Linked DNA regions of Homo sapiens. The protein of the gene in region 3 interacts with the protein of the main gene of each other region in a biochemical or structural test. Each region holds a gene or a part of one and is shown on either strand. Other genes may lie near its edges.

Region 1 (8,010 bases), on a different chromosome or scaffold from region 3:
CTTCCCTTTTTTAAACAAAAAAGACTTATTTCTTACAGTGCTAGCATTAAGTATAAGTAGGTATGATTCTACACAAAATGAAAGTTGGATTCCTTTGGTTCCATTTCTTGGGTAACAAGTTGAATAAATTGGGATAGTATTGATCTTTCTGATAACAAATAAAAGGACATGTGAATTATATCAGTTAATGGATATACACAATTCTTAATTCTAAAATGCTGCCTATAGAACTTTAGAAACACTTAAACTAATACAGCACTCAACTTATTTTTTCTTAGAACAACATAGTAATATTGTTCCTGTGAGAAGCCCTTTTTTAGGTCTTTCTGCTCTGTTATTCAGATGTATACAGGGTATAAATAAAGTTTATGACCAAATTGCACCACTTGTGATAAGCAGGATTCACACAATTACATTCACCACTCCTTAGGGAGGACCCATTACCATGGGCATACATAGTATTCACTATAAATGCATTTAGAATAGTCTTTGGCTTAGTATGTGCTAACCAAATTCAGAAATATAAAATAAAATTTGCATAAACATTAAGGGGAAAAAAAAAGAATAATACAATGAATTGTGATGACCTATCTGGCCTTTCTTCTTTGAAATGCAGAAACTCCACCAAACACCTCTTTTGGTCAAATGGTCCCTGGTCCCCTTTAGTTTCCAGGCTCTCCCATATAAGGTGGCTAAAAGTTAAATTTGAGTATCTTAGCTTAGAAGATAGTTCATTCAATTCAAAATGCATTTCTTGAGATGATAAAAAAATATATACGTAAAGTAAAAAATGACTAAGGTGTTCATGAAGCAATACGATAAGTAGAATATCTAGGGATGATGGATAGGGAGTTGATTTTAAACTAAACAACCACCAAAAAGCTATATTAGTGTTTCGTGTGTACATGTGTAAATGTACCTTTCATTTCACAACTTATTTTTAAATAAGTAAAAAAAGAGAAAAAAATTTATTTTTATCTAAAGATTTATCTTTTCCTAAAGATTATTTCTTCTTTTAAACAGATTTTTTATGCTGGTCTACCCTCATCAAGTGCTTCACATAAAATCCCCTTATCCCAAATTGAGTAGAAAATATAGACAGGGCAGGGAATAAAAGACCACTGTATTGACATTTAAAGCTTAGTATCTTTTCTAATATTAAAGTCTGTTGGTGAGTTTTGTTTGGGAAAGGGATCATTTTCTAAACCATATGTGGGGAAAAAAAAACCACCCAAACAGCCTTTCCTTGCCCTTTGTCTTACCTCACTGAGCTTGAGTCCCTTGGGACTCCACACTTCCTTTGGTAGCAATTTTGAGAAATTAATGCTATAACTTCTAATCCAGTATACTGGGTACCAGCATTTCCCTCCCTGAATCCTTCCTTCTAAGTTTCACCACTCCCAAGGGAGGGACTCATTATTATGGGCAGCTACAGCATTACTGATAGCCCTAAAATCATTTCCACAGACTAAAGGTAGAGATGTCAAGTCAGGATAGAAGATTAAATTTAACTACAACAGAGAAAAAGTGAATGGAGAGGAGAGAAATTAGTAATTGACATTGTCATTCTATTTACACACCAACCTAATAAACTAGTTAAACATCAAGTTAATGTCTGCCCAGAGGATATCACAATTTACCAACATAAAAGATTAAAAACAAGCAGCAACTTTCATATAAAATTAATAAAGACAAATGAAAAAGAAATTGTCAGTAGCATCTATCTCCTCGATGTGTCTGAACTGCACGTTATCAACTAGTCCATTAGTACAGCAGCTTGCTAAAAATTGACTTTGGTTCAAGCTTAGTTAAAAAACAAAACAAAACATAAAAAAACACACCACACAAAAAGGGTGAATGGACATTTGTTAGTTTCCCTGCTTGCAGTTCACTGATTTTGGAAGGATTTTAGGGAAGGTGAAGGGTAAGAGGAGGAAATTTAGGGGTGGTAATTAAATATCTGTGAAATAAAACACGATAGAAATAAACTAAAAGAAATATTTTAAAGGGGACTAAAATGTTTCTGACCTTTTAACAGACTGTCTCCCACTTGAATCACACACAAAAGTACACATTGTGTCTGTATTTACTGCCTTACTGGACAATGGGAAAGAGACAAGTACACAGAATCCAAGCTCCCTTGTGGACACAAACAAAAGCAATCAGAATAAAAATCACCTGTAAGTTCTCTCTACATCCCCAGCTCGAAAGGGAGAAAAAGTGCAGTCTTGGGACCACCAGAGATTTAAGCAAGCACCCACAGCCACCAAATGGGAACCTTTAACTCCAATAAGAAGGGGAACTTAGATGAGCTGCACTGCAGTGATCCAGTCTTTTGGAAAATTTTTTGGTACAGATGGCATAACAACAGTACACTGACAAAAAAAGGAATTTAATCTCCAAGTTACCCTTATTCCTCTTCATCCACTTTCACAAACTCTTCCTTTTCAATGGGCTCATTTATATAGTCTACAAACACCCTGAAAATAATTACAGAGCTAATTACTTTCTACATTGAATAAAGAGATGTGTATTGCCATTTAGACCTACCTAGCAGGAGCATCATGAACAAACCAAGGAGACACTTAAGGTGTGTGCAAAGTTCCTGCTCAAAGTCCTTCTTCAAAGGTTCTACAGATCCCAGCCCGGCTAATAAGTGCCTCCTTTAGTCAGAGAACCAAGAAGAATCTCAGGGTTAGAGGAATTTATAAACCATCCAGTGGAAAGGAAGTCTGTGGCTCTCTAGAGGAAAAGGTGGTAACCTTATACCCTTCTCATCACACCTCTTTTGTATATATTATCAATGGAAAATAGTCTAGTAGAATTCCTTTAGAAAATAAAAGAAGGGAAAAGTTTCCCAATTTCAGTAAGTCAGTTTTTTTTCTTTGCCAAGTTAGTTAAAGTTTGGATGAAAAACTTCCACAAAATGGAACAAACAAACAAACACACCAACAGCAGGAGCATTTTTCAGGAGATAAGAAATCAGGAGAACCACCAAGTCAGGTGTCTGCAGTAGTCTTTGCTCTTGGGAACCAAATCCTGCCCTGCAACATGTACAGCTGTTCCCATTGAAAGTAGCAGAAAGCAGCACTGTTGCACCACAGGAACTGGGCCTCAGGGTCATTCAATGATTTGGGGGTGAGTGAGAGCTACAGTTCAGCAGGAATTCCTTCCTACACAAAAGTGCTCCAAAGGCACCACCTGATGTGGGGAGGGGAAGGGGCGTGTGTGGAATGGGAGTGTTTGCACACACTGCCTTCAGCTTCTGCACCAAGCCTCTTGCATAAGTGGCAAAAGAAAATAATTTTCTAGCACCTCTGTAAGAGTCATCAAGGATAAGGAAACCAGCAAGAACATTCCCCACAGTTAAGAACAGAAGTCTCCCCTTACCCCAAAACCCTCCCTCCCCACAGTGTGGGAGCTCACTGAAATAGGATCCAGGAGCAAGAGATAATAAACATGTCCAAACTATATATATAAAACAATAACAACAACAACAATAATAATACAGTAATACAGGCCTGCCTAAATTGTACCAGTTAAGAAAGGAACCCCCAACACAATTGATACGATTATAAACACCTTGTTATGACTTAATGGCCTGTACAACAGACCCATAAAAATGATTTTTTTTTTTTAAGAAAAAAAGAAATTTAGACAAACAAGAAATCCCCTTCCTATATTGGAATTGGTAACCCACCTTAACTTGTCATCATGACTGCTGGAAATGATAAGTAGTCCTTTCACTTATTTTTGTTTGTTTTTGATTTTTTTGTTTCTTTTTTTTTTTTTTTTTTTAATTTTTGGTTAGAAAGTTCTCCAATCCATGAAGCAATCCTGAAAAGACAGTGTTTTATTACAAAATTAGGCAAATGTTCCGTCTCCATCCTTTCTTTCTTTTTCTGGTATGTGTGTATGGGTGTGTGTGGTTTTTTTTTTTTTTTCTCCCTTCTCTCCTTTGCCCTCACAACACGGCGAGAGGAAGCCAATCACATTTTTCAGTTTATTAACCTGGCTGGCAGTCCAATCACACTGCAGAGTGAAAAAGGCTTCTGGCAGCCCAGCTCTGCCCAGCTCACTGTGCCTTGGAGGCGGTGGTGGTGGTGGACGCAGCCCCGCTGGCAGAGGCCACTGTGAAGAGAGAGTTCTGGATGGACTCAGCAGAGGTGGAGGTGGCGTGAAGGCTGGCTACAGGTGCAGAGTTCCCTGCAGATGCTGCGGCGGCAGAGACCAAGCTAACAGGGTTGCTGGTGAGCAGAGAGAGGTTCTGAGGGTTCAGGAACAGAGGGGCAGTCACGATGTTGGGGGCTCCTCCCGCATTGGCAAATACCAGGTTCCCAGTTGCATCAAGTGATGTTATTGGAAGAGAGCCACCAGAAGCAAGAGCTACAGACAAAAACCCCCCAAAACAGGCAGGAATGAAAACATTAACATCATCCTGGAGAAGCCAAATAACACATCAAAAGTCTATCATTTTCCTACAACCCACCAGGAAAAAGTATAGCCCTTCACTGAATTTTTTTCCTCAAACACAGTGCTATATTGATACCAATTGTAGTTTATTTTTAATTTTGAAGAGCCTAAAAGACTGAAATGTCTAATTTAATGGGCACAAGCAGGGGTAGAAGACAGCTAATAACTGTCTAATGAATTAGAGTCATGTTCGTGTCTTGAAATCACCAGTTTATTTCATTTACCTAGACATATTTGATAAATCCAATAATTTTGTCTTTAATGAAGACTGCTGATTTTAAACTACCTCTGTTCAAAGGACAAACTAGCTGAAGTGATTAAAGCATTAACAACAGGAGGTGAGTGGTGGGCATTACAGCCTGAGGCCTGCCTCCTGTTAGATCAGTGGCGGCATTAGATTCTCATAGAGCACGATCTGAGGTGGAAACAGTGTCATCCAGAAACCACGCCACCACAATGTGGCTATGGAAAAACTGTCTTCCAGAAAACCAGTCCCTGGTGCCAAAAAGGTTGGGGACCACTGCTTTATATTATGATATACAAGATGAAAATCATCTTGCAAAAAGGCTTTAGTTCTAAAATAAATTATGTATCACCAAATAAAGTTAAAAGGTATAATTAATTTCTCACTTCCTGAGGCTAAATACTTGATTTCTATGACTTGTGCAAAGGAGAATGATGAATCTATTGTAGCAGGAAATTAGACATAATGATGTAGGTGGGTGATCTAAGTCTAGGATGTGCTTTAATGGGTGAGAAATTTTCTATGATGCTGTTGCTTCCCCAAAGAAGGCATCATCAACATTTTATTTAAAATAATCGAGACTCTCATTTAGTATCTCAACCTGTTGTCTGGCAACATTCCTAAATCTCTCTAGCCATATAACCTCACTCCTACATGTAGATTTGAGGGATTTTCTAACGGCATTACACATTTGATTTCTTACATAAAATATAGCTGAAGGGAATGCCTCTGACTTTGGCCTTGCTCATACAAATAGTACAGAACAGTGAGACAGTGCAGCTTGAAGTTTTTCTGAGATTCCAAACTTAGTATCTTTTCAGAGTGTCAATCATGCCCTAGGGAAGACATTTTGCCTTTGTAGTATCAACACAGCACAGAAACATTCAATAAAGCAGAAGAAAAAGTGATTTATCACAAATTCTATTGCAAAAAAAAATTATTATATAACAAAAGCTTTAGAGCTAACCAATTCAGGTATGATTTAGTCAATCAGAAAGTCAATATAATGTAAGGTAATCTAGGCCATGGTTTGGTTTTGTCTGTAATTAACATTCTCTAGTACACTGTTAGAGATATTACCTGTGAAATATTAATCTTAATTTAGGTTGGCTAATAGTTATTTTTGGCCCTGAGAATTCTCATTTATGCACAAAACACTTTAATTTTTTTTTTTTTTTTTTAGAAACAGGGTCTTACTGTGTTACCCACGCTGGGGTGCAATGGTTATTCACAGGCATGATCATAGCACACTGCAGTCTTGAACTCATGGCCTCAAGTGATCCTCCTGCCTCAGCCTCTTAGCAAAACTATTTTAAGAAAAAAATTCTAATTAATTAGTGATGTCTCTCAAATTGTCTCCCTGAATCACATAACAGTAAACATTTTTAGACAGAAAGCTTAGGTACTAAACAAGTGGAACCCTTCAGTATATGGAATGAATATTGCCCTGGGTAACATGCTAAAAGGCAAAAGGAACCCAGCTGAGCTTGGAAAAGAGACATTATAATCCAAGAGAATATATGTTCTACACTAACGGCGATATAAAAAGAGCAGAACTTAATGAGAATTAAAAGCACTCCTGAGGTCCACCTGATGTGTTCCAATGTTTGTTCATTACAGGACTTTCCCATGCACAGCTTTCTCAGGAGTGCAGCTGGGAACTGGAGAGTCTTACTTGGTCAAGTTTGCCTAGAGACGGGTTTTAGATTAATACTTGGGATAAACTTATCAGGGGAAAAAAATCTGGCTTCAAGTCTACTCACATAAGATCAATATTAGCATGAAAGTTCTGGTTTTTTACCATATACCAAACTAAGTATATTTCCTGCTTTTACTCACATACTAACACCTATACTTTTCTTACAAAGCTTTTTTACGAGGACATTTTCTTAGTTCTCAAGAACAAGTTAGTCAGCATTTGACTCTTTCCCATCACTTTTACCTCTAGCAAAGCAGACTTCCTCTATCTCTGTCTCAAGCACACACACACACACACACACACACACTCACACACACGTGCATGCCACCAAATTAAGAAAAAGGCTTCTACTGACCTTGAATAGTTGCCAGTGTACTGTTGCTCATTAGAGCTGGGCTGAGAGCACCGCTCAGGGTCCCTGGATTCAGACTGAGTAAGGCACCTCTGCAAGTCCAAAAGAGGAGTCACTTTATTACCATGCAGACGCAGGTCTCATTTTGACAACACACCAAAAGGAACTTACAAAACGAAAATCCAGCTGGGGAAATAGGTGGAAATATTTATTTTTCTTTACTCTTCTATGGTTTGTGCTTCTCAGTTACTGCTTTCCTGGATGCTTACTCATACAAACGAGGTTATGATCAGCACAAAATGTAAAACTTTTATAGTCATTTTGACCCTTCTTTGAAAGACTTATTTCTCTTTCTTTCCAAAATGAAAGAAACATTCTAGAGAAAAAGATATATTTACAAGATAATTCTTATAATGTGTGACAATAACAGTATAAAATTGAGACTCCTATTACATCTCTTATCTATGCTTGAGAATTAGGAAGTAGGCAGTTGAGAGAGTTTAATGGGGAAAATAAGAGTCAAGAATTCTAGGCTTTCTTCCTGGCCCCGTCACTAAGGTAATTAGTGACCTGGTATTTTGGGTCTTCATCTGGAAACAAAGGTATGACTACTGCCCTTCCCAGGGTGTTAAGAAACATAAACTCAACTATAATCAAAGTCCTTGTATGATCACAAAACAGCCCACTTCAAAGAGATTACTGCTTTAAAGACATTTTTTTCCCCATCTAAGTCAGTGATGTAAAGTCTCCCCTGTGAGTAATTCCAGGGATGACCTCCACCTCAGACGTGAATGAGATGAGAAAGCGCCTTACCCAGCCGCAAACTGTGAGGGTGCCATCAGGCTTGGGTTTAGTCCTGCAGCAGCTGCCATGGCAGCAAGACTGGCATTTGCTGGCAACTGTGCAGCTCCTTGAAGGGCAGCAGCTGCTGCTGTTTGCAAACCTGATGCTGTCACCATCACCTGGCTGGTCCCAAGAGGGGAGGACAAAGGAGTGGAGGTGGTCTGTGTTGTGCTGGTCTCACTGGCACTGGATGCCTCGGAGGTGGAGGCTGAGGCAGAAGGGGAGGGACTCAGAGAGGGGGACGTGACTGCTGAGGAAGCTGGAGGCGCTGTGGAAATCACGGTTGCTGTGTTGTTGGAGGTGGTGTCTGAAGTGCCTGAAAAGACAAACAGATTAGAAGATGACCTTTTGTAAATGGTTTTGGAAGAATGGTGGCTTTACTCAGCCAAACTCTATAAT
Region 2 (8,010 bases), about 39 Mb from region 3:
CTATTTTTGAACTTTAAAATAAATTATTTGAAAATTAACTCTCCATTTACTACCCTTTGCTCATTTTAAGTGTTTTAAGACCTCATCTCTCAACCTCAGTTTCAGTGAAATAAAAATTTGTTTGCTTTCTTGTAAACAGATCACAAACTCATTAAAATACATTTTTCTTTCTATATTTTTCCATATCTTTCTGATTTTAATACTCATTGTTAGTAACTCCTGAGCTTCCTAGTCCCCAGAGTTTCCAGAGAGACAGAGTAACTGGGATGCTTGAGATGAAAGGTTTACATAGTCTTTATTTAGCAAATCCTCACATCGCACAAAGCACAAAATTAGCCATGGCTCCAATTAGAGTGACTCCAAGCCAGAGCATCCAGAACACAGCAGAATAAACTGGCCTGCTATGGTTTGCCTCTTTTATACGCATGTTAGTTTCCTCTCCATATGTCAAGCTCAGCTTGAGATTTCTTCATTTTATTCAAAAACCTCCTCCTATCACCCAACTCCCAGTTTCCAGATATGCTTAGAAGATATTACTGGATCCCCAACACTTAAAACACTCAGAATTCACAGAATTAAAATAGAGTTGCTAGAGTTTTTTGTAACGGAAAGAACTTGGGATTTAAAAAATGGTATTAACAAATTCTACAGAGACGGGTAGGGCCTTATATTTCTTTAATTTTATTTTGTCCACAAAGCCTGAAGAAAAACTAAGAATGGGTCTCCTTCAACCCAGAGTAATAATCAAAGGCCCTTGGTACACAGACAACTTTAGACATAATTTCAGGTAGTTCCTGGGACTCCTGAAACTCATCCAAATAGTAGGTTAACAATGTCTTTTTTACTGCCGGGTGTGGTGGCTCACACCTATAATCCCAGCACTTTGGGAGGCCGAGGCGGGCGGATCACAAGGTCAGGAGATCGAGACCATCCTGGCTAACATGGTGAAACCCTGTCTCTACTAAAAATATAAAAAATTAGCTGTATGTAGTGGTACATGCCTGTAGTCCCAGCTACTCGGGAGGCTGAGACAGGAGAGTCGCTTGAACCCGGGAGGCGGAGCTTGCAGTGAGCCGATATCGCACCACTGCACTCCAGCCTGGGTGACAGAGCGAGACGCCATCTCAAAAAAAAAAAAAAGAATGTTTTTTTTAGAATCTGTCCTTACTTACAGATAAGTTTCTGTTATAATTCCTTTGATTTTCTTGAGGATAAGGCTATAGCCTTATCACAATTTGGCAAGTTTTCATAGTTCCATATTCTTTCCTTTCAAGCAGACTAGACAGTAAGCTCATTAAGGGCAGATACCAGATCTCATAATTTTGGTAATCCCAAACACTTTGAGAAATAGCTGAGACAAATTACATGTTTAATACTATCAGATGACTACTATCTTTAATAAGGTTCCATTAAGTAAAGGTAGAAAACTGTGTTTTTAAAGGATTACAAAATAGAATTTACATTAGGGGACTTAGTTTCCCATTTCAGAATTATACTTTATAGAACTTTATTCTAAGGAAAAATGGAGGACAAAAACCATTGCCTTAGATAAGAGATTGGCAAATCTTTTTTGTAAGCGGCCAAAAAATAGATATTTTCAATCTTGTGGGCCACATGACCTCTGTCTGACACAACCTCTTAATTCTGTCCTTGTTGCAGGAATCAGCAATAAGTGCTATGTGACATGTAAACAAATAAGTGCAATAAGTGCTATGTGACATGTAAACAAATTACCATAGCTATGTTTATGTAAATAAAACTTTATTTACAAAAACAGGGCTCACAGGCCAGTCTACCCCATTCACTGATTTAGATTACTGGCTCCATGAAAATATTTGTAACAAAACAAGAAATTCCTACAGACAAATTAAAGACAATATCCATTAGAAAAATGGGCAAAGGAGATGAACAGGCAATTCACAGATAAGGAACTATAAAAGGCCAATAAACATATAAAGATTCTCAACCTAACAAGATCTATCAGAAAAATAAGGCATGACTGGTAATGTGACTTTTCCAGACATTTTGTATTAGTTTTATTTAACCAATACAGAATGGCAAATAATATCTCCTATGTGAATTTTTGTGCTCTCTTTAAAAGCAAAACCTAGCGGGGAAAGTCCCATTGTATTATCTCCAATTCTTCCCCTCCCATTCTCTCTGAAACCCAAATCAGGTTTTCCACTCCACCATTCACCAAAACTGCCCCTTGGTAAAAGTCACCAATGATCTCCAGATTGTTAAATACTTCTCTTCCATCTTATGAGCACACACAGCAGCATTTGATATAGTAAACGGTTACCTTATTCCCTCCTCAAAACAGTGTTTTTACTTGGCTTCTGAAACACCAAAATCTCTGAAACACCAAAATCTCTCCATTTTCTTCCTACCTCAGGGGCTGCTCTTTCTCAGCTCCTTTGTTGGTTCTTCCTTATCTCCCCAACCCTAAACACTGAAATGCCAAAAGCACAATTCTTGGATCTTTTCTCCATGTATACTTACTCTGAGGTGATTTCATCTTGTCACCTAATAGCTACATGCTACCTACTATATTTTTCTAATACAAGTCAAGTCTCTGATCTGAAATCCAGACTTACACATCTAACTTGGACAACAGTACTCATTTGAAAAATGATCTTCCTCCTATACACCTCCTTCCAAAATCTACTTCATCTTTGGTCTTCCTCAACTCTGAAAAGAAAAATCTGCAACTTGCACACTAGTGAATAGAACTAAGAAGCTCCACAAAGAGAAGCCAAGTACATAAGTAACAGCTAAATATAAATGGATTGAGATGATAAAGAATTTTAACTGAACACAATAAACAGTGACAACAAATTAACAGTAAATTGACTAAATCATGCCAATTCTATCAATACTAACCTACAGCAAAAATAGAAGGAAGTCTCAAATTCTAGTCTAATGTAATTATCCTCATTAGCATCAGTTTATGTTTATTTTATTTACCTTAAAGATCCAATGAACAAGGGGAGGAAAATATCAACCACAGATTTTTATTTTAATCTGAAATAAAATCTGCAAGGAAACTATGTCAGTGTTTAATGCAAAAAAAATCTAGTTCACTCTAAAACAGATTTTTCTCTTCAAAAATCTTATGTTTAAGAAAAAAAAGCACGTGGAGGAGGCCTATCCCTATTTTTCCACAAGAAATAGAATGAGAAAGGCCAAAAAAGAAGGGAAGATGGAGAATGCAGTAACCCAACAGCTAAGGGGAGTCTCAAGAGGGAAGAACTGTTATTAAGAGGTCATCCAAGTATGGAAGAATAGATAAGACAAAGAAAAGATGTCCCCGGATTTAATAACATGATCATCAATGTCATTTCACTGAGAAAAATTAGGAGGGCGGCAGCTACCAAGGCAGAAATCAAAATCCAATTAAGTGGAAGGCCTAACAGAAGAAGAAATGGTCCTAGCTTTGTTAATATAACTTGAAGAATGGCACTAAAAGAAAGGAAAGAGATGAAATAGTAGTTAGAGGAAAGTATATGGTATGGCGATGAAGCTCCTCTAGTGTTTGAACTTTCCCAGAGAGATAAATCTTTATTTTGCTATCCTCTTTAAACAGATTATCATTTTAATAATTAGTGAGTATTAGTTATAACATAATACTATGTCACAATTCAGTAATGTCTCTAGACCTATTAAGGTATATATGCAACACTTTTTTAGTTCTTTCTTCTACTTTTGTAAAATTAAAATAGCTTTTCTATTTGCTTTATCTTTCATTATTTCTTGTTGCTGCTGATACACATCACAATTGCTTTATTTAAAACATATTTGCTCAACAAGTGCCTGAAATGACAGAAGGTTATGCTATTTTCCTTTTACTACACTCATAGATGTTAGTAGCTAGAAGGAAGAGCCAGTACTGAAGCCAACTTTAGTACTTCAGCTAATAATTCTGTGTTCTGAGTATATTAAAAATTAGTCAAGAATAAAGGCATTTATTTAAGTAACATTTCAACAGGAGTACAGCAACATAAATGACATGCAACAGATTCTGTCGCCATATAAAGAGAACAGAGTACAGTTTAAGAACCAATTAAGAAACTATTCTTAAACTCAAAATACACAAAATTACCTTCAGAGGAAGGGGAAAAGATACAAAATAAAAGTTTAGTTATGAGCCAAGAAATTAAATCTATCACTAAATTTACCCTGCTAATAGCATACCATCAGATTAAAGGCAAGTAACCAAAAATATTCCCAACTTTGAATTTTCAAAGTATGCAACATGGATGGCTTAATATTCATCTCTCAGCACTTAACTGCCTTGTGTGGGATGCCCTCCAATATCAAGATTCTGACATAAAGGTACTCATTAAATCATAAGCTGCAATTTGCTTTTTTAACTTTCTTATACAGACTTTTTTTTTTTAAAGGACTTATAAGGCTTTTTTATGGACTTGGCCTAGTGCCACACTCTGTATAGACACTTATAGGAAATGGATGAAATTCATTCTCAACACTGTCACCTATTACCTTTCCAAAATGTAAATTTCATTCTCCTCTCTGCTTGAAGTTCTTTATTGGCATTCCAGCGCCATCATAAAGCTTTAGCATTATAACCAAGGTCCTCCATGATATGCTTCTCTTACATTATTGATTATTCATTCACTTTACAAATATTTACTGGGCACTTACTGTGTGCCAGGCACCGTTTTGGCCTGATGATGGTGACTCGCAGCAGGAGTAATAACAGTTGTGAATTGGACTCTAGATCTATTATGATAGTAGTACCAACAGAATTTCCTGATGGACTAATTATGGGGTGTGAAAGAAAAAATAAAAATGGTTCCAAAGTTTCTGGCCTCAGCAAGTAGGATGGAGCTGCCATTAAAAGGAATTAGACTTGGCCAGACGCGGTGGCTCACGCTTGTAATCCCAGCACTTTGGGAGGCTGAGGCAGGAGGATCACGAGGTCAGGAGTTTGAGACCAGCCTGACCAACATGATGAAACCCCGACTCTACTAAAAATACAAAAATTAGCCAGGCGTGGTGTCGCGCACCTATAATCCCAGCTACGCAGGAGGCGGAGTGGGGAGGAGAATCACTTGAACCCGGGAGGCGGAGGTTGCAGTGAGCCAAGATCGTGCCACTGCACTCCAGCCGGGGCAACAGAGCGAGACTCCATCTCGGAAAAAAAAAAAAAGAATTAGACTCATTAAAACCCTATGTTACAGCAGAGCCAATATAGCAAGACCCTGTCTCTACAAAAAAATTAAAATTTTGCCAAGTGTGGTGGCACATGTCTGTATTCCCAGGTACTCTGGGGGCTTAGGTGGGAGGATCACCTAAGCCAGTAAAGTGGAAGCTGCAGTGAGCTATGATTGTGCCACTGTACTCCAGCCTGGGCAACAGAGCAAGACTCTGTCTCACAAAACAAAAACAAGCAAACAAAAAAAACCTCTGTTATACAGATATTAAAAGGGGCAAGACATCCCTAATACATCTGGTGCTCTAATAAAGTTACCTTAATCTGCACTCCCAGAATGCCAATTTAACATTATCACTGTACTCACAGTCTTGTATTTAATGGCCTATGATTTAATTCTTGTGTGTATCCTGAGGGCAAATACTATCTTCAAATCTCTAGAACCAAGAAGGGCCTGGCCTGTCTCTTTATATAGGTTTAGTTGAATGCTCTTTGAAAATAAAAAGCCATCCTTTTTTTTTTTTTTTTTTTTTTTTTTTGAGGCAGGGTCTTACTTTGTCACCCAGGCTGGAGTAGTGGCGCGATCTCGGCTCACTGCAGCCTCGACCACCCAGGTTCAAGTGATCCCCCTACCTCAGGCCCTCAAGTACCCTGGACTACAGACAAGTGCCACCACGCCTGGCTAATTTTTGTACTTTTGTAGAGACGGGGTCTCACCATGTTGCCCAGGCTGGTCTCGAACTCCTGAGCTCAAGCAATCTGCCTGCCTCAGCCTCCCAAAGTCCTAGGATTATAGGTGTGAGCCACCTTACCTGGCCAAAAAAAAAAAAAAAGCCATTTTTTAATAAGAAAAAAATCTCTACCTCCAAAAGCTGGTATGATATATTGGGGAAAAAAGTTGTCTCTGTCTCTTAGACCTGCCTCCATTTTTTTTTCTTTGAAGAAATTAGATGGTGTTTTATGCTAGCAAGGTCACTTCTCTCAGAGATGTCTAAATCTAAAAGAATGTGATATAATGGGAAAAGAAAGGTATTCATGCTTTTCTCAGTCTTCCACAGGCTTAGAAAGTTTCATAGAGGAATAATGTTTTTCAGTTTGACCATAAAAGAAGGTAGAATTTTTCTCATTCTTTTTCTCTAGGAATAATAAATAAAATAAAAGAGATGGGAGAGATAGGTACTGAACAAATCATAAAGTTAATGTACCTTTTACATAAGGAGTTTGAAATCAACCTAAAAGTAACAGAGATCTAAGACATAGACGGACAATATCAAATAAGAGAATTGGGTTACAGGGAGCTCATTCAGAAAATGAGGAAGAGAATAGGTTGGGTAGAATCAAAAGGGCTGAGGGAGCAAATGGGTAAAGTCTTTATCAAATGGATAATCAAGCTTTAAGGTTTCTGGCTTACAACAATGGTGCTGTCATTCCTGGACAAAGAATATTAAAGAACAGGATTTCATTGGGAATATTAATTGAAAATATAATTTGTTACACTTGAAGCAAATAGATTAAACTATTAGGCTTTTAGTTCTAAGTTATTTGTTCGCTAAGTGATAGCAAGAAAGAACTGCTACAACTCTAGTCAATTATGTACTAACTTAAACTGTTATCTCAGTGTTATGGTGCTCTACTTCATCTCTATTTCCAGACTATAAGGGCATATTTTCTACTTATTTTATCTCCCTTCTTAGTATTTAGTACAATGCTACTCACAGAGTACACACACTAATTCTGAATTCTATGAAGTTAAGACATCTTTCTATAGAGTCATCACCATTCTCAACTTTCTCTGCAGCTAAAATAAATTTAAAACATTATGATAATGTTTTATTAAACAGTTCATCAAAGTCAATAAAAAATCTTTAACATTTAAGTTATATGCTAACCTGGAGAGCACGTTTCATTTTGCGATATAACTTCAGACTCATCTTTTTCACCCGAAATATCCTCTTCATCAGAGAGGACCAGAAAGGCTTCTTTTGGCAAACTCTCACTACTTTCTTGTTTAGATGGTGAACCAAAAGAACTTTCCATTTTCTCTTCCAAATCTGGATTTGTCTCATCGATTGGAAGGAGAGATGTTTTAGAAAAGCAAGTAAGTTCATCCTCAGAAGGTGCAAGCTTTTCCAAAATAGGAATGATTTCATCTGTCTCCATAGAGTCTGTATTTTCTAAGATATTCTCACTTTTGTTATCTTCAATAACATTTTCATTAATCGTTTCTACAAGATCTGCAGAAGTTTCATCTTCATTCTTTTCACCTTGGTCAATTTCCATACTGCTAGATATAGCATCTTCTCCAAGAGCAAGCTCTGTGATAATATCTTCCTCTACCTTCTTTTCATTTTCAGGAGGTCGATCTGAACAAATAGTTGTATCATCTGTTTCTAGAGTTTCTTCATTAGCATCAATATTATTATCAGCTTTATTTTTCTCATCCAATGAGTCTTTACTCTGAATTTGCTCTAATTTTTCATCAGCTCCATTTTTTTCAAGAAAATCATCATCTTTATTGCTACTTGGTTCTATATTGTCAATTTCAGGAACTGGTTCACAAACTGGTACAGACTTTGGTTCAAAGGTACGATCAAAGGTTGATTCAGAAGTCAGCTCATCAGAGGCCAGTTCACCAGTGGCCAGATCATCAGAGGCCAGTTCACTAGAGGATAGATCACCAGAGGCCAGATCATCAGAGGCTGGATCAGTGGAAGCTGGTGCTCCAGAAGCCAGATCAACAGAAGTTATTTCACTAGAGGCTATATCATCAGCGGCACAATCACCAGAAATGGGTTCAACAGGGACCGGTTCACCTGGGATGGGATCACTAGAGG
Region 3 (8,010 bases):
ATGAGCAGAATTATTAGTTGCACGTTTACATGCTACTTTACAAAATGAAACAAAGGGAAAGGGAGATAGAACAGATACTAAACGTTTCTGAAACAGAAGGCACTCTTGTTATTTAATTAAGAACTAAAATGGCCCCATTACACAAGGCAACGTGATTTAACAATGACGTCATTTATAAAGAGAAAGCCACTGGAATGAATAAATAGGAGCAATGGAAAAGGTCTGAAGACTGTCTTCTCATATCCCACTGATTTTCAAATCAAAGCACTTAGATTTTTTTTTTTTGAGACGGAATCTAGCTCTGTTGCCCAGGCTGGAGTGCAGTGGTGCGATCCCGGCTCACTGCAACCTCTGCCTCCAGGGTTCAAGCAATTCTCCTGCCTCATCCTCCTGACTAGCTGGGACTACAGGTGCGCGCCGCCATGCCCGGCTGATTTTTTGTATTTTAGTAGAGACGGGGTTTCACCATGTTGTCCAGGCTGGTCACGAACTCCTGAGCTCAGGCAGTCCACCCGCCTTGGCCTCCCAAAGTGCTGGGATTACAGGCATGAGCCACTGCACCCAGCCCCCTCAAAGCACTTAGATTTTAAATGAGATCTTTCCTACTTAAACTGAAATAACCATTTAAAAAGCACCAAACACCCTAAGAAACAAGTATATCTTTCTGTGCTGATATCTCTAGAAAATAAATTTTTTAAATTAAAAAGAGAAACAAGTATAATACTAGGGAAAGACAAAAGACGCAGAAACATTCAACATTATATTTGATAAAATATAATCTTAAAATAGAAAATTCTTTCATATGACCTTTTGCACAAAAATGATAACTGGTAAGACATTTAAATCATCTAAACCTACTTTTCATTAATGTCCAAATGTACTGCTCTAAAACACAACTTTTTAACAAATTAGCTCTCAGCAATCTGACTCCAAGTTTAGTGACACCCTTGGCAAACCAACCCTGGTATCACATTCAACTTAACTTCTAAGAGAAGACATTTTCCTGACCCCAATAAAACCCAGCAGATGTGAAATTGTTATTTTTAGTACCTGAAATTTGGTTTGTGAATGAATTATACCCATCAAGGAAATATGTTCTATTCTCCTGCCAAAGCCCAGCCCTGCACTCTTTATTAGACAGAACTCACAAGAAGTCATCCAAACTTAAATCTTTAAAAGCCAACTCCCCGTCAACCTGCGGCAAGAGTTTCAGGATTCAGCAGCGGCTAAGAAAAACATCTGAGGCTTTAAATGAAAAGTAAAATAAAATAAAATAAAGATCTGGGAAAATATGACTACAAAATGAAAGGAAAAGCTGTTGATAAAAGAGGGAGGGGTGTCAATTTAAAAAAAAAGAAACATCACGCCTGTAATCCCAGCATTTTGGGAGGCCAGGAGATCGAGACCATCCTGGCCAACATGGTGAAACCCAGTCTCTACTAAAAATGCAAAAATTAGCGGCTGGGCACAGTGGCTCATGCCTATAATCCCAGCACTTTGGGAGGCCGAGGCAGGCAGATCACCTGAGGTCAGGAGTTCAAGACCAGCCTGGCCAACATGGTGAAACTCAATCTCGATTAAAAATACAAAAATTAGCCAGGCGTGGTGGTGGGCATTACTCGGGAGGCTGAGGCAGGAGAATTGCTTGAACCCAGGAGGCAAAGGTTGCAGTGAGCCGAGACCACACCATTGGACTCCACCCTGGGCAACAAGAATGAAACTCCGTCTCCCAAAAAAAAAAAAAAAAAAAAGATCATTTTAAAAAATAATGAATGTAAACAGACTAAGTGAACACCATGGAAGCTGCAATCTTCCACAATCATGTAATATATCTCATTTTGTACAGTGATATATACATGTATCATACAACATTTCACATCCAATGTTCTTTCTACATCGTACCAAGAAGTTGAACATACTGCAAAAAGGTTAAATTTTACAGTAAAATAACTATCAGAGAAGGGGGTAAAATTAGATACTTTTTTTTTTTGACAGGGACTCACCCTACTGCCCAGGCTGGAGTGCTGTGGCGTGATCATGGCTCACTGCGTCCTCAACCTCCCGGGCTCAGGCAATCCTCCCACCTCAGCCTCCCAAGTAGCTGGGACTATAGGCGTGTGCTACCATGCTCAGGTAATTTTCATATTTTTTGTAGAGATGGGGGATCCCTATGTTGCCCAGGCTGGTCTTGAACTCCTGAGCTCAAGAGATCTGCCTGCCTTGGCCTCCCAAAGTGCTGGGATTACAGGCATGAGCCACTACGCCTGGCCAAAACAAGATACTTTTGCCAGCAGGAAGGCAAAAGCTGAAAAAGGAGTAAGCCTCTAGGAAGTGATTTTATTATCTTTCTTTAAGGATGAAGTCATATCAATTAAAGGGGAAATACTACACAATTATTACTAGCCAGAAAGGAGAAAACTTGGATCTTCAAAAACCCCTATTAATGAAGCAAACAATCTCAACTCTTACAAAACAGCCTGTCAATGCCTCATTATCTCCTTAGTGAATGTCAAGCTCCTCTTACCTTACAGAAACACACACGCATTTTCTTCAGCTCAAACACCATCAGTAACAACTAGGTAGCCCTAGTCTATGACATATTAAATGGCAGACTTCCCCAGAGCATGATTTAGCAATGAGAATGCCTCATAACTGTTCTCTAAACCCTAAGTTATAAGCCTTTTAGAAATTGCAAGGATCCAAATTATTAACAGGAATAATCCCACAGTTTGCTCTGAAGAAGAGCAAAACCGGGCACTTCAATCTAAGAGCAAATAGAAAATAAACATGATGGTGTAGGTTGCCCAGAAGTGTCTAATTTTCTACGTTGTAGAGGTCAGTTTTTATAAAACTTTTCCCATTTCTATTCCCATAAATGTTTAGTTTATAAAACATTTTTATAAATGTTTTATAAACATCTGTCAGTTTTAGAGCATTAAATCTTAAATCAAAAACACCTTTTCGAATACATTTTTTTTTTTTGAGACGGAGTCTCGCTCTGTCACCCAGGCTGGAGTGCAGTGGCACAATCTCAGCTCACTGCACGCTCTGCCTCCCAGGTTCACATCATTCTCCTGCCTCAGCCTCCCTAGTAGCTGAGATTACAGGCACCCACCACCACGCCCAGCTAATTTTTTTGTATTTTTAGTAGAGATGCGGTTTCACCATGTTAGCCAGGATGGTCTTGATCTCCTGACCTCATGATCCGCCTGTCTCAGTCTCCCAAAGTGCTGGGATTACAGGCGTGAGCCACCAGGCTGGCTCGAATACATTTTTAACAATCTAAAGAATTGTTCAAGTCCCTAGTTAAAACAGGTTGCACCCTAGACTAGTAAAACTAGCCTCAGCTCTGGCTGTTGTCTCATTAAGTGATTCTCTGTACCTCAATTTCCTCATCTAGAAAATAAGGCAGTTGTACTAAATAACTTCAGTCCCTTCCAGCTCTAACTTTCAATTCTAAGATTTCAATTAACTAAGAAAATTACTGTCTTGTTAAAGCTCAACATGTAGTATTTCTAAACACACCACAGGAATGTAAGAAATCAGGGAACTTAAGCAGACTTTCCCCCTAGATTTACCAAAACTGCAGGAGGCAGGAAATATGGTTGCCTATTTGCTACCCTCACTTATGTAAGAATCAGTTAAATGGAATGAGAACTTGGTAACAAAAGTAAACAATTTATAAACCCACATATATATGCCAAAAGAACTAGAAGTGGCCAGGCGCAGTGGCTCACGCCTGTAATCCCAGCACTTTGGGAGGCCAAGGCGGGCGGATCACGAGGTCAGGAGTTCGAGACCAGCCTGACCAGCACAGTGAAATCCAATCGCTACTAAAAAAATACAAAAAATTAATGGGCATGGTGGGACGTGCCTGTAATCCCAGCTACTCGGGAGGCTGAGGCAGAAGAATTGCTTGAACCCGGAAGGCAGAGGTTGCAGTGAGCCAAGATCGCACCACTGCACTCCAGCCTGGGAGACAAGCTAGAGTCAGTCCCAAAAAAGAAAACGAAAAAAAAAAAAAAAACAAACCTAGAAGTTGGGTGATATTATTTGGTGATATTAAACTATTTTCCGTATTTGTATAATTGTGCCAGCATATAAAGATGTATGTGTATCCTTTTATTGTGCTTTATTAAAGATTAGCTCCATACAATGGAATTTAAAATGATAAAGTCAGGCCGGGCATAGTGGCTCACACCTGTAATCCCAGCAGTTTGGGAGGCCAAGGCAGGCAGATCACTTGAGGTCAGGAGTTCGAGACCAGCCTGGTCAACACAGTGAAACCCCGTCTCCATTAAACAAACAATTAGGCGGGCATGGTGGCACACGCCTGTAATCCCAGCTACCTGGGAGGCTGAGGCAGGAGAATCACTGGAACTCAGGAAGGGGAGGTTGCAGTGAGCGGAGATTGCACCACTCCACTCACTACAGCCTGGGCAACAGAGCAAGACTCAGTCTCAAAAATGAAAAAAAAAAAAAAAAAAAGATACAGTCTACATAGACTTACATCTGTTTACTGTTTTAAATTTCAAATTAATAGTGAAACATTTAGTTCAAAATGAAAGACCCTGAACATTATGGTCAACAGATTCAATATTCTTCCCAGACTGTTTTTCCCTTCAATGCTCTCCTCATTCCTAACTCTTCTCAATCCTACATCCCCCACTCCATTCCAGACCCCAACTTACCCCACTCCCTTTCCTTCTCCCTTCCTAACCACACACAGTACTTTCAAAGCAGTCTAGGAAGTTAGACTGCTACCTAGAAGTATCAGAATCACCTAGGATGCTCATATGTTAGTGTGAAGGGAAGCTATGGGATTTTGTTTTTCAGATAACTAGGAGTTAAAAAAAAATTCAATCCTGATTAACCAGCACACTCAGAGTGTGGGATATTCTGGTTAATACTAACCAGGGAACTTACTTCGTTGAAAAGCAACCCGTTAGATCATTTTCCCTTCAATTAGGAGTTACAGTTCACAAGAAATATCTGATGATTTAATCTGTGTTCTACAAACAGGTAAAATTCATAATCAATTTTTTTTTTTTTTTTGAGACGGAGTCTCACTCTGTCACCCAGGCTGGAGTGCAGTGGCACGATCTTGGCTCGCTCCAAGCTCTGCCTCCCAGGTTCAAGCGATTCTCCTGCCTCAGCCTCCCAAGTAGCTGGGACTACAGGCTTGTACCACCACGCCCGGCTAATTTTTGTATTTTTAGTAGAGACGGGGTTTCACCATATTGGTCAGGCTGGTCTTGAACTCCTGACCTCATGATCTGTTCACCTCGGCCTCCCAAAGTGCTGGGATTATAGGCGTGAGCCACCGCGCCCAGCCCATAATCAAATTTATTTTTATTTATTTTTTTTTTTTTTGAGACGGAGTCTCGCTCTGTCACCCAGGCTGGAGTGCAGTGGCGCGATCTCGGCTCATTGCAACCTCCGCCTCCCTGGTTCAAGTGATTCTCCTGCCTCAGGCTCCTGAGTCGCTGGGACTACAGGTGCGCGCCACCATGCCCAGCTAATTTTTTGTATTTTTAGTAGAGACAGGGTTTCACAGTGTTAGCCAGGATGGTCTCGATCTCTTGACCTTGTGATCCACCCGCCTCGGCCTCCCAAAGTGCTGGAATTACAGGCGTGAGCCACCGCGCCCGGCCGCCTTTTATTTTTATTTTTTGAGACAGGGTCTTGCTCTGTCAACCAGGCTGGAGTGCAGTGATGTGATCTCGGCTCACTGCAGCCTCTGCCTCCCAGGTTCAAGCAATTCTTGGCCTCAGCCTCCTGAGTAGCTGGGACTACAGGCGCGCATCACCATGCCTGGCTAATTTTTTTATTTTTAGTAGAGAAGGGGTTTCGCCATGCTGGCCACGCTGGTCTTGAACTCCTGACCTCAGGTGACCCACCCACCTCAGCCTCCCAAAGTGCTGGGATTACAGGCGTGAGCCACCGTGCCCAGCCACCCGACTAATTTTTGTATTTTTTTTTTTTTTCAGAGTCTCACTCTGTTGCCCAGGCTGGAGTGCAGTGGTGCAATCTTGGCTCACTGCAACCTCTGCCTCCCAGATTCAAGCAATTCTCATGCCTTAGCCTCCCGAGTAGCTGGGCCCATAGGCATGTACCACCACACCCGGCCAATTTTTGTATTTTTGTCGAAGACAGGGTTTCGCCATGTTGCCCCAGCCGGTCTTGAACTCCTGAACTCAACCCATCCACCTGCCTCGTCTTCTCAGTGCCTGCATTACAGGCGTGAGCCACCACACCCGGCCCATAATCAATTTTTATCCTATGGAGGAGTTGGCCTACAGGCCAAAGAAGGCCTTAGAGCTAAGAATGGTTTTACATTTTTAAAGGGGTGTGGAAAAAAAACATACAAAACAGAAAATGTGGCTGGGTGCAGTGGCTCACACCTATAATCCCAGCACTTTGGGAGGCCGAGGCAGGTGGATTCACATGAGGTCAGGAGTTCGAGACCAGCCTGGCCAACATAGCAAAACCTTGTCTCTACTAAAAATACAAAGATTAGCTGGGCGTGGTGGTGCTCGCCTGCAATCCCAGCTACTCAAGAAGCCCAGGCAAGAGAATCGCTTGAACCCGGGAGGCAGAGGTTGCAGTGAGCCGAGATCACGCCACTGCACTCCAGCCTGGGTAACAGAGTAAGACTCCATCTCAAAAAAAAAAGAAAAAAGAAAAAAAAGAAAAGAAAGCCGGGCGCGGTGGCTCACGCCTGTAATCCCAGCACTTTGGGAGGCCGAGGCGGGCGGATCACGAGGTCAGGAGATCGAGACCATCCTAGCTCACATGGTGAAACCCCGTCTCTACTAAAAATACAAAAAATTACCCGGGCGTGGTGGCAGGCACCTGTAGTCCCAGCCACTCGGGAGGCTGAGGCAGGAGAATGGCGTGAACCTGGGAGGCGGAGCTTGCAGTGAGCCGAGATCGCGCCACTGCACTCCAGCCTGGATGACAGAGCAAGACTCTGTCTCAAAAAAAAAAAAAAGAAAAGAAAATGTGACCACATGAGGCCCACAATGTCTAAAATATTTACGTTACTATCTGGCCCTTTACAGAAAGCTTGTCAACCATTATTCTGCAGCACCAAAAACACTGAGTATTACAGACTCCAGAATATTGCCCAGAAGTGCTCCTTCCTCAAACTAACTGGAGAAGTTTCCTTTACTTCAGTTCCAAATTACTTAAACAGAATCTCTATTTCTCAAATTTATTTGCCTAAATGACTAACCCTCAAGAAAGTGTTATCTCAAAAGGCTCTATTCCTTTCTTTAGACTCAAGTTTCAGCTACGATGCTAGAGTTGGTTCCCAATAAATGCACAAGATTGGAAATCTTACCTGGGGCATTTGCTATAGCCAACGGCAGGCCTTGAATTGGGTGCACCTGGATTCCTGAAGTACCCAATGCACTGAGGTTAATGGTCTGGAGGCCTGGCATGGAGGAGAGTTGAGCAGCATTCACAGTGACTGTGCCAGCAGGAATGGAAGCAGCTGAGGCAATGGGTGTGAGAGTGGTGTTGCTGCTGCTGGTCTGCCCCAAGGAAACACCCTGCATTGGGGCTAAGGTGATTGTTTGGGCTTGTGGGTTCTGAACTTGGAGGTTCTGCAGCTGTAGAGTCTGCCAACTGACCTGTCCATTGGGCCCCACTGTTGGTGTCCGGATGATGATGGGACCAGAGTTTGGAACAGCCTGAAGCTGGAGGTTCTGGAGGGTTTCCTGGGAGATGGCTTGAGTTGTAAAGGTCTGCCCTGACAATGGTGCTGCTTGGAGGGCCTGGAGGGCCTGTCCCCCTTGAACTAGCTGAGGCTGGATAAGAATTTGTTGCTGCTGTGTCTGCTGGTTTTGCTCTCCTTCTTTTTGCTGGCCTGCTTGCAATGAGCCTCCAGATGTCTGGTTTTGCTGGATGTTCAGAGCATCAGACCCCTGTAGCCCACTGACCCTCTGGGGTGTCTGGCCTTGAGAGTTGGTCCCTGATGATCCACTGGTAGTAAAGTTCATAATT
Region 4 (6,940 bases), on a different chromosome or scaffold from region 3:
AAGCTTCCAAGGATTTATCCTTGTGTTAACACGGTAGGTCTTAAGTGAGAAACAGCATATAGAGTTTAGTGGAAAGAAGATGAAATGGGAGTCAGGAGATTTGGGAGTTAGCCCTTGCTGGACTCCTAACTTTCTGACCCTGACCCTAGTCCACGCAAATCACTTTACCCATCTGGCCTTCAGATTTATCTGTAAAACGAGTACATTAAAGTGTATAGATTCTAATGATTCTTTCTAGCCCTGCTAAGTACTCAGTATTTAAATGATGATCAAAAAACAGTGACAAAAATACAGCATGACATGGTTTCTCTGGGTCTTTTCCTTAGACACCTGAATCTGAATACTCTTAACCCTTAAGTATAGAGAACAACACAAGGTTCTTAGGAAAGAGATACACTAACAGCCCTGCAGTGTTTCACCATGGAGTGCAGGCCAGACTTTAAATTATTTTAAGAATAAGGTTTATTGTCTCTTCTTTCCTAATGGGGCTACACTTTAAGCCATGTATGCAGACTTAAGATGTATTACAAGCCTTTGATTTACTTGGTAAAGTTATGTGTATTCTCTTGGGGGGATAAGTAGTGAGAGCCATGAGTTCCTGTTGCTTTTGCAAAGGACTTTAATCATCATGTCATCTTTGTCTCTAGGATCCAAACCAAGCCGATGAAGAAGCAATGACACAGATCATCCGAGTGTCCTAACCCCACGCCATGTGATGGAGCTGATCAAGGTCATGTTTCTCACTGTTCCAGGAAATTGATCAACTCTTCCAATGGGACATTGATGATCACATTCTGCCCTTTACTACAGGACAGAAACCACTTAGTTTTTAATAAGTGGCTCAGTATTACAATTGCAGCGATGCCTGGCAAATTGAAGTTGCAAGCCTTTGTCTTACTCTTTCAGTCAGGACCTATTTCAGACTGTTGATGACATTGACATTTCATGGATTCGGATGATGCAAGGAGACACATGCCACCCCAGCAGTACACAAAGCACTTACCTTGACTGGTGAAGTCAGCCAGCCATCTCAGCAGGGAAGAACAACCTTCTCAACCAAAACTGCAATCAGGAAAGCAGCAGCCCACTCCTTCCCATGGAATCTAGACAGCATTTATCCCTCTGGTGGGGGAATCTCACACTGACTAACTGAATGGACGCTTTGTATTCAGAGATGGCTTCCAGGCAAGGAAGTTCTATCTTGTGATACGGAAACAATAAATTCCTGAGATACATTCTTCCAATCTGTGGTAATAATAAGAATTCCTCTCTGCCCAGATGGTAGGTTGATATTTCTGGACTCTAGCCAAGAAAAAGCTAATTCTGGGGATAGAATGATAAAAGACTCAAGCACTAAAAATATACATTGCCGAATCTCTTTTTCTAGCTTTGAAAAGTTGTGGCCTGCTTGTCCCTCTGTTGACTGGTCATCTGGACCATCGTACTTGCTGTGGCTACTTCTAAGACAATGTAGAGGGTTATTAAACCTTGAAACTGCCTTTCCTAAGTAGAGAACAAGACTATTCAACAACTTCTTTGCTGAAGCACTGAGGAGATTTGTAATACTCCTAAAGGAAGGGCCAAACTAGAGATTTTCAATCATAGACTTTGTGACAGCATTTGGGGAACTAAAAGATTCATGTGTTTCAGCCTAGTGGGAGAGAGTGGGGGAGAGGAAGAGAGAGAGAGAGCATGTATACCCGTATGTTATCATAGAGCACGATTCTCCAGTGGATGGATACCTGGAATGGATCATTAAGATGAAGAGAGTAATTCACATTTACTCTAGAACCTTTAACAAGCACTGAAAGGAAGAAGCCTGAGATTTGATCCTTGACAATTTCTGGAAAGCACTGGTCAGTCACACTGTCCTGGACAGAGTCCAAGTTACCCACTAAAGCTTGAGGTGGATGTTGGCTTCACTCCTGCAGCACAATGCTGGCCCTAGAAAGCGAGCATTTTCATTCTTCCCATGGCAGCTGATTCTTTGGTGCCAGTTTTCATGTTTTCTCCATAGGCCTTGTGCAGAAAGGTTTTCTCATTGCATCCATACTGTGAGAATAAACTGCAGACTGAAAGAAACATGCCTGCAGGGTCAGGAACTGGGCCACTGTTCCCAGAACGGGTTGTGCCTCAGAAATCTATTTCTCTTTTAGATGTTGAACCCTGAGAGAACTAAGATGATATTTCAGAAGAGTTGGCTGCCTTCTCTGGAAACAAGGAAAACCCAATAATTCCGAGGAACATTGGGGGTTAAATACCAAGAATAAAAATTGGTTCTTCTTTGACTTCAGCTTAACTGTATTAAGACAGAAATTAAGCCCTCTAAAAACACCACAAAGAGAGATGATTGTAATGATAGAAATAGAGGTACAGAGCTATGCAAAGGAAACAGGAAGTGAAATATTCCTAGTCCCAGGGATCTGGTAATCGCTCCTGGCTTCCAGATGTCAAAGGACTGATCCTTTGGTAAGCTCACTAGAAACTTCTAGCTCTACAAGAGTTTGGGATATTAATGTTATTCAGTAAGTCCCAAGTTTTTCAGAGAATAGATTACTAACAATGAGGAATTTATATTCCTTGGTTAATTTAGGAGTCTAAGATGCAGAGTTCAGAAAGAAATTACTCAGACCTAACTTTGAGTGCTTAAGCTGCCAACAGTTAGAAGATGCTATTTATTTGTGTCTGTAAGTTTGTACATAGTAATGCCAGCCTTGTTGCTGAATTTTTTATTTGGGGGGAGATGACTTTGAATTTTGTTTGAAATGCTTCAGTTGTCATTTTGTCATTGCATTTCAAATAGCTCATGACCCTTTTCTTGTGGTCACTTTGGCACACCATAGTAGCCCACAAAGTGGGGGCAGGGTATTGACATTTGGATTTTTTCTTTGATACTAGTTCTTTTATTCATTTTTATTTGTGACTGTAGTGATAACTTTACAGATGGAGAAAGAGTGAATGGATGAATGAATAATTGGTTTAATGCCTAGTTATGCAACTTGAGTGCTTTTTTTTTTTTTTGCAGGATAATTTTAAGTGTATATATTTTAACTGCACTGGTACATTGAACATGTCAGTGTCGATGCCACTGGACCAACAGAGCATTTTGTGGCTATAGGGTGCCTGATAATAATGTCTTGATTTTTCTTTGGGATTCAACTATATCGAAGGTTTTTCCCCCAGCAGTATGGGGGCGTACAGGTGATCGATCATTAATGTCATTGCAATTGTTATTTTTTAAAATAAATTTATAAAAATAACCGAAAAGTAATGTGACTTTTGAGGAATCTGCAACTCCTGGGTTCTAGTTTGTGTTTCCAGTGTTGAAATTTTGATCTCCCCCGACAAGACTTGTCTGCATGGACGGTGTCTCTGTAAACAGTATCAAACTTGTAATGTCTGAGCCTCTTAGCTTTATCTCCCCTTAATTTCTTCCCTTTTGGCCCTTCCACCCTGTTGAGGAGATTTTTTCTGTCACCTGCAGGCTGATCATACATTTGATGCTACTACTGAAAGTGTTTATCAAAATGTGATGAAGTAATTCCATGAGGAAAATTAGCCGTTATCACAAAAACAGCCTTAAGTATTGTAGAATTTCAGGTAGTGAAGATGTACTATTTACGTTTTGTTAGATTTTGTTTTGGCAGAAGACCAAAACAAAAGTACTTTTCTGATTGTTAAAAATCCACAGCATGCTCACCTTGTTACTGTTTTACCTTACGGTCGCTGGGAATCTAAGCAACAAAGACTAGAAGCCTCCGATATGCCATTATCAACACACAAGAGACAAACAGCCCGAGGAAGCACTCAATGATGAGAGCAGTAGACCTGCCCTGGCAGATGAGAGAGGAGAAACTCTCCACAATGAAGGAAAAGCACTGACAGTATTTGATAGCTTTAGTCAAACTGTGCTTGAGTTTGGCTTAGATTTATGCCAGTGGAACCTGTCCTTACCAAATTCAGAGATGACCCAAGATTCTACTCTGTGGTATGAGGGAAAGACCTCTCGATATTTATCTCACACCAACGGCTTTATCGTAGGAGCGTCTTCGCCTCCCCCGTTTCCAGTAGAAAAGACAGCTTTGCTCCTTTGAAAGCGCAGACCGCCGCACCTCCAGCCCCTTCTCCCCGGGGAAGTAGGCCCCGCTAAGAATGTGGGAAGGTGGTGGGGCGGCGACTGAAGTCGCTTCCGATTGGCGTTGTCCCAAGGAAGCCTGCGCGGATTGATCGGCGGCAGGCCTCCAATAGAGCCTGCTAGGCGGATTGGCTGCTACGCGGCTGGGCCCTGTTTCCGGTACCTAGGCGGGCAGCCATGGTGACCGGCGAGCGGCATGCGACGCCGCCTCTGTGGCCTGTGGAGGCCCGCTTGGCGGCGCTGCTTCCCGACCTACTGGTCTTTCGGAAGCCTCGGGGATGGGAACCCGAGCTCGCCACGGCCCAGGGCGTCCTCCTAGGCGTCCATGTGACGGGTGAGGGCGACGGCCGGCACTTGCACTTAAGTCTCCTGGCCTGCGGGAGAGGCGGCCGTTGGGTCTAAGCCCCTGGAGGCCTCGACGGTTACAGGCCTAGCCTCCCGCGAGCTAAGGCACAGTTTAACTTCGTGCTGCGGCTTCCTTAGGAAACTTTGAGTATCTTCGTTTTAGCGTGGGAGGACATCTTTTGGGATGAACCGGCTCAGTCCTTGAGCTCACCCCAAAGATGATGAAATTGAAACTCAGAGGAAAGGATTTTTACAGGACCACGCCCCGGGCTTTGAACCCGTTTTTCCCAACCCCGAGCATTTTCTATTAAGCGTTCTGTTTCAATTATTTTATTCGTTCAGTTAATTCGTTCTTGGCGTCATAAGTATATGCCCGCCGTTGTTCTGGCCGTAGCTATCTAGCAGCCACTCCGCGAGTCGTTCATTTAACAAATACTTACTCTGTGTCAGGGATATGAAGATGGGTAATACCAGGTGCCTGTCCTCACTGTGTGAGTGGTTCTCTAGCCAGACATGAGGAGGGATCCTATTGTTTCCCATAGCTAGGCAGCCTAAGAGAGTAGGGGAAAGAGCTGGCTCCAGATGAAAAGGGCACCATCTCCAGCTCTTGGAAGCAGAGAGGGTGGTCCTTTGGATTCCCAGTGGCAGCAGCAACCAACCTGGCCCTTAGTAGTTTCTAAGTTACACCATGTTAATGGATAAAGGAATTACTCAGCTTGAAGGGATCTGTTTCCTTTACACTGGCCTGATGTGTGGGGAGAAAGGGGCCAAAAAGTTTAGGATTTGGAGTTAACATCGTAATTTCTGCTTTGTTGGTCAGGGTTTACAGCATTAATGGACAGGTTCACCCTGACCTACAAGTCGGAACGTGACATGGACAAACTGGCCCATATCTTCAGTTATTACATTAGTGACATCGTGGAGCGTGAGTGATCATTGTAGGGTAACAAGGTGTGGTGCTGGGCTCCTGGGGGTTTATAAAAGAAGGGGGCCAGAAGTACTTTAAAACAGGTACCAAAGGGTCATTCCTTTAGCATCATTCATCTTTGGTTTCTTCAAGTTGCCACTGAAAAGCTAGACCTTTGCCTATTATCTGCTAATCTACCCAGTCTCACATTCTATTGACTCATTGTTCAAAGGGGGGGCAGGAGGAGCTAATTTCCTTTGCACATTTGTATTTTATTTCAAAATAAAGTATTCTCTTCTAACAATAACGTATCTCAAGTGTGTATTCAGACAAAATTTATAAAACATCTTTTTATTATTATATTTTGATCCTGTGAGGAAGGAATAGGTGTTTTCTTATTTTCTGCCATGTATTAAGCTTTTAGATATTTGCCAGATATCCAGTATCTGGAAAAAACTCATTTATGTAGTACCCATGTTTTGAGTACCTACCCTGTGACATGGACTGTAATAGGTGCAGGCAGGGCAAGAACCCACTCTTGAACTTTTTAGTTAGGCCTACCCAACAGAAATTACTCTGACCTTATACCTTTTAGTACTTACGTAACATTCTCATCCTTTACTGACAGTGCCCTGTATGCTTCCGTCCATCATTCTGAGATTCACCAGAATAATTACTTTGAGGCATCTCCGTTAAGAATTTGATTATTTGACTTACCTCTTATCCTTAAGGAACACATGGAAGGTCGTTTGCTTTTTCTTATAGGTTTGGATGAAGGGGAAGATAAACATTCTATATCGTGTATGTACTCTAATACCAGCAACTTCTGGGTACTAGAACTACAGGGGAAAGTAAGACAGAGTACCCTCGTGGAGTTTCCATTTTAGTGGGACAGACAATAAACACAATAATTGTAGCTTATATATTCTATCAAGGAAATAAACATAGTATAGTGGTAAAAAAAAAACACAAAAAATAATTTTAGGGTAGGGGAGTATATGAGACAGGGTGGTCATAGGCTCCTCTGAGGAGGTATTATTTAAGCTGACACTTGAAGGATGAGGGGAACAGCTTGTGAAGAACTAGGGGTAAAGCATTTCAGACAGAATACCAAGTGCAAAGGTCCTGAGACAGGAGAAAGCTCGGCATGCTCTAGGAGCTAAAAGAAGGCCAGTGCAGGCCAAAACGTAGCTCGCAGGGTGAAGAGTGGTTTGAGGCAAGGTTGGGGGATGGTAGCTATGAGACCACCACGCTCTGTAGTCCATAGTGAAGAGTTGGAATTATATATTTCTGTATAAAGGAAAACTGTGGAAAGGTCTAGCAGGGGAGTAATATGATCTGATTAACACTTTAAAGCTGATTTTGGCTACCTTGTGGAGATTGAATGCTGGTGGAAAGTGAATTTAAGAATAGAAGCTGGAAGAGGCAATTGTCCTGGAAAGATGTTGGAGATTTGGTCTAGAGCAGTGGTTCTCAACCTCAGCTGTGGTTGCCTGAGGAGCTTTTTAATTGTTTTTTCTTTTTTCTTTTTTTTTTTTTGTAAGAGACTGGGG

What was found.
Region 1: the proteins of SP1 (region 3) and POU2F1 form a complex in vitro, tested with the Homo sapiens proteins (3 studies listed by BioGRID and IntAct).
Region 2: the proteins of SP1 (region 3) and ATF7IP form a complex in vitro, tested with the Homo sapiens proteins (3 studies listed by BioGRID).
Region 4: the proteins of SP1 (region 3) and NFYA form a complex in vitro, tested with the Homo sapiens proteins (2 studies listed by BioGRID).

Annotation. Positions count from the first base shown.
Region 1 is NC_000001.11:167,411,876-167,419,885, reverse strand, and holds part of POU2F1 (POU domain, class 2, transcription factor 1), read right to left. Parts: intron 7,928-8,010; coding exon 7,582-7,927; intron 6,861-7,581; coding exon 6,772-6,860; intron 6,025-6,771; coding exon of another isoform or gene 6,008-6,024; exon of another isoform or gene 4,387-6,007; coding exon 4,076-4,386; 3' UTR 1-4,075. UniProt on the Homo sapiens protein: Transcription factor that binds to the octamer motif (5'-ATTTGCAT-3') and activates the promoters of the genes for some small nuclear RNAs (snRNA) and of genes such as those for histone H2B and immunoglobulins.
Region 2 is NC_000012.12:14,424,529-14,432,538, reverse strand, and holds part of ATF7IP (activating transcription factor 7-interacting protein 1), read right to left. Parts: coding exon 7,066-8,010; intron 1-7,065. UniProt on the Homo sapiens protein: Recruiter that couples transcriptional factors to general transcription apparatus and thereby modulates transcription regulation and chromatin formation. Can both act as an activator or a repressor depending on the context.
Region 3 is NC_000012.12:53,382,958-53,390,967, reverse strand, and holds part of SP1 (transcription factor Sp1), read right to left. Parts: coding exon 7,346-8,010; intron 1-7,345. UniProt on the Homo sapiens protein: Transcription factor that can activate or repress transcription in response to physiological and pathological stimuli.
Region 4 is NC_000006.12:41,096,710-41,103,649, forward strand, and holds the end of NFYA (nuclear transcription factor Y subunit alpha), read left to right. Parts: intron 1-647; coding exon 648-701; 3' UTR 702-5,694; downstream 5,695-6,940. UniProt on the Homo sapiens protein: Component of the sequence-specific heterotrimeric transcription factor (NF-Y) which specifically recognizes a 5'-CCAAT-3' box motif found in the promoters of its target genes.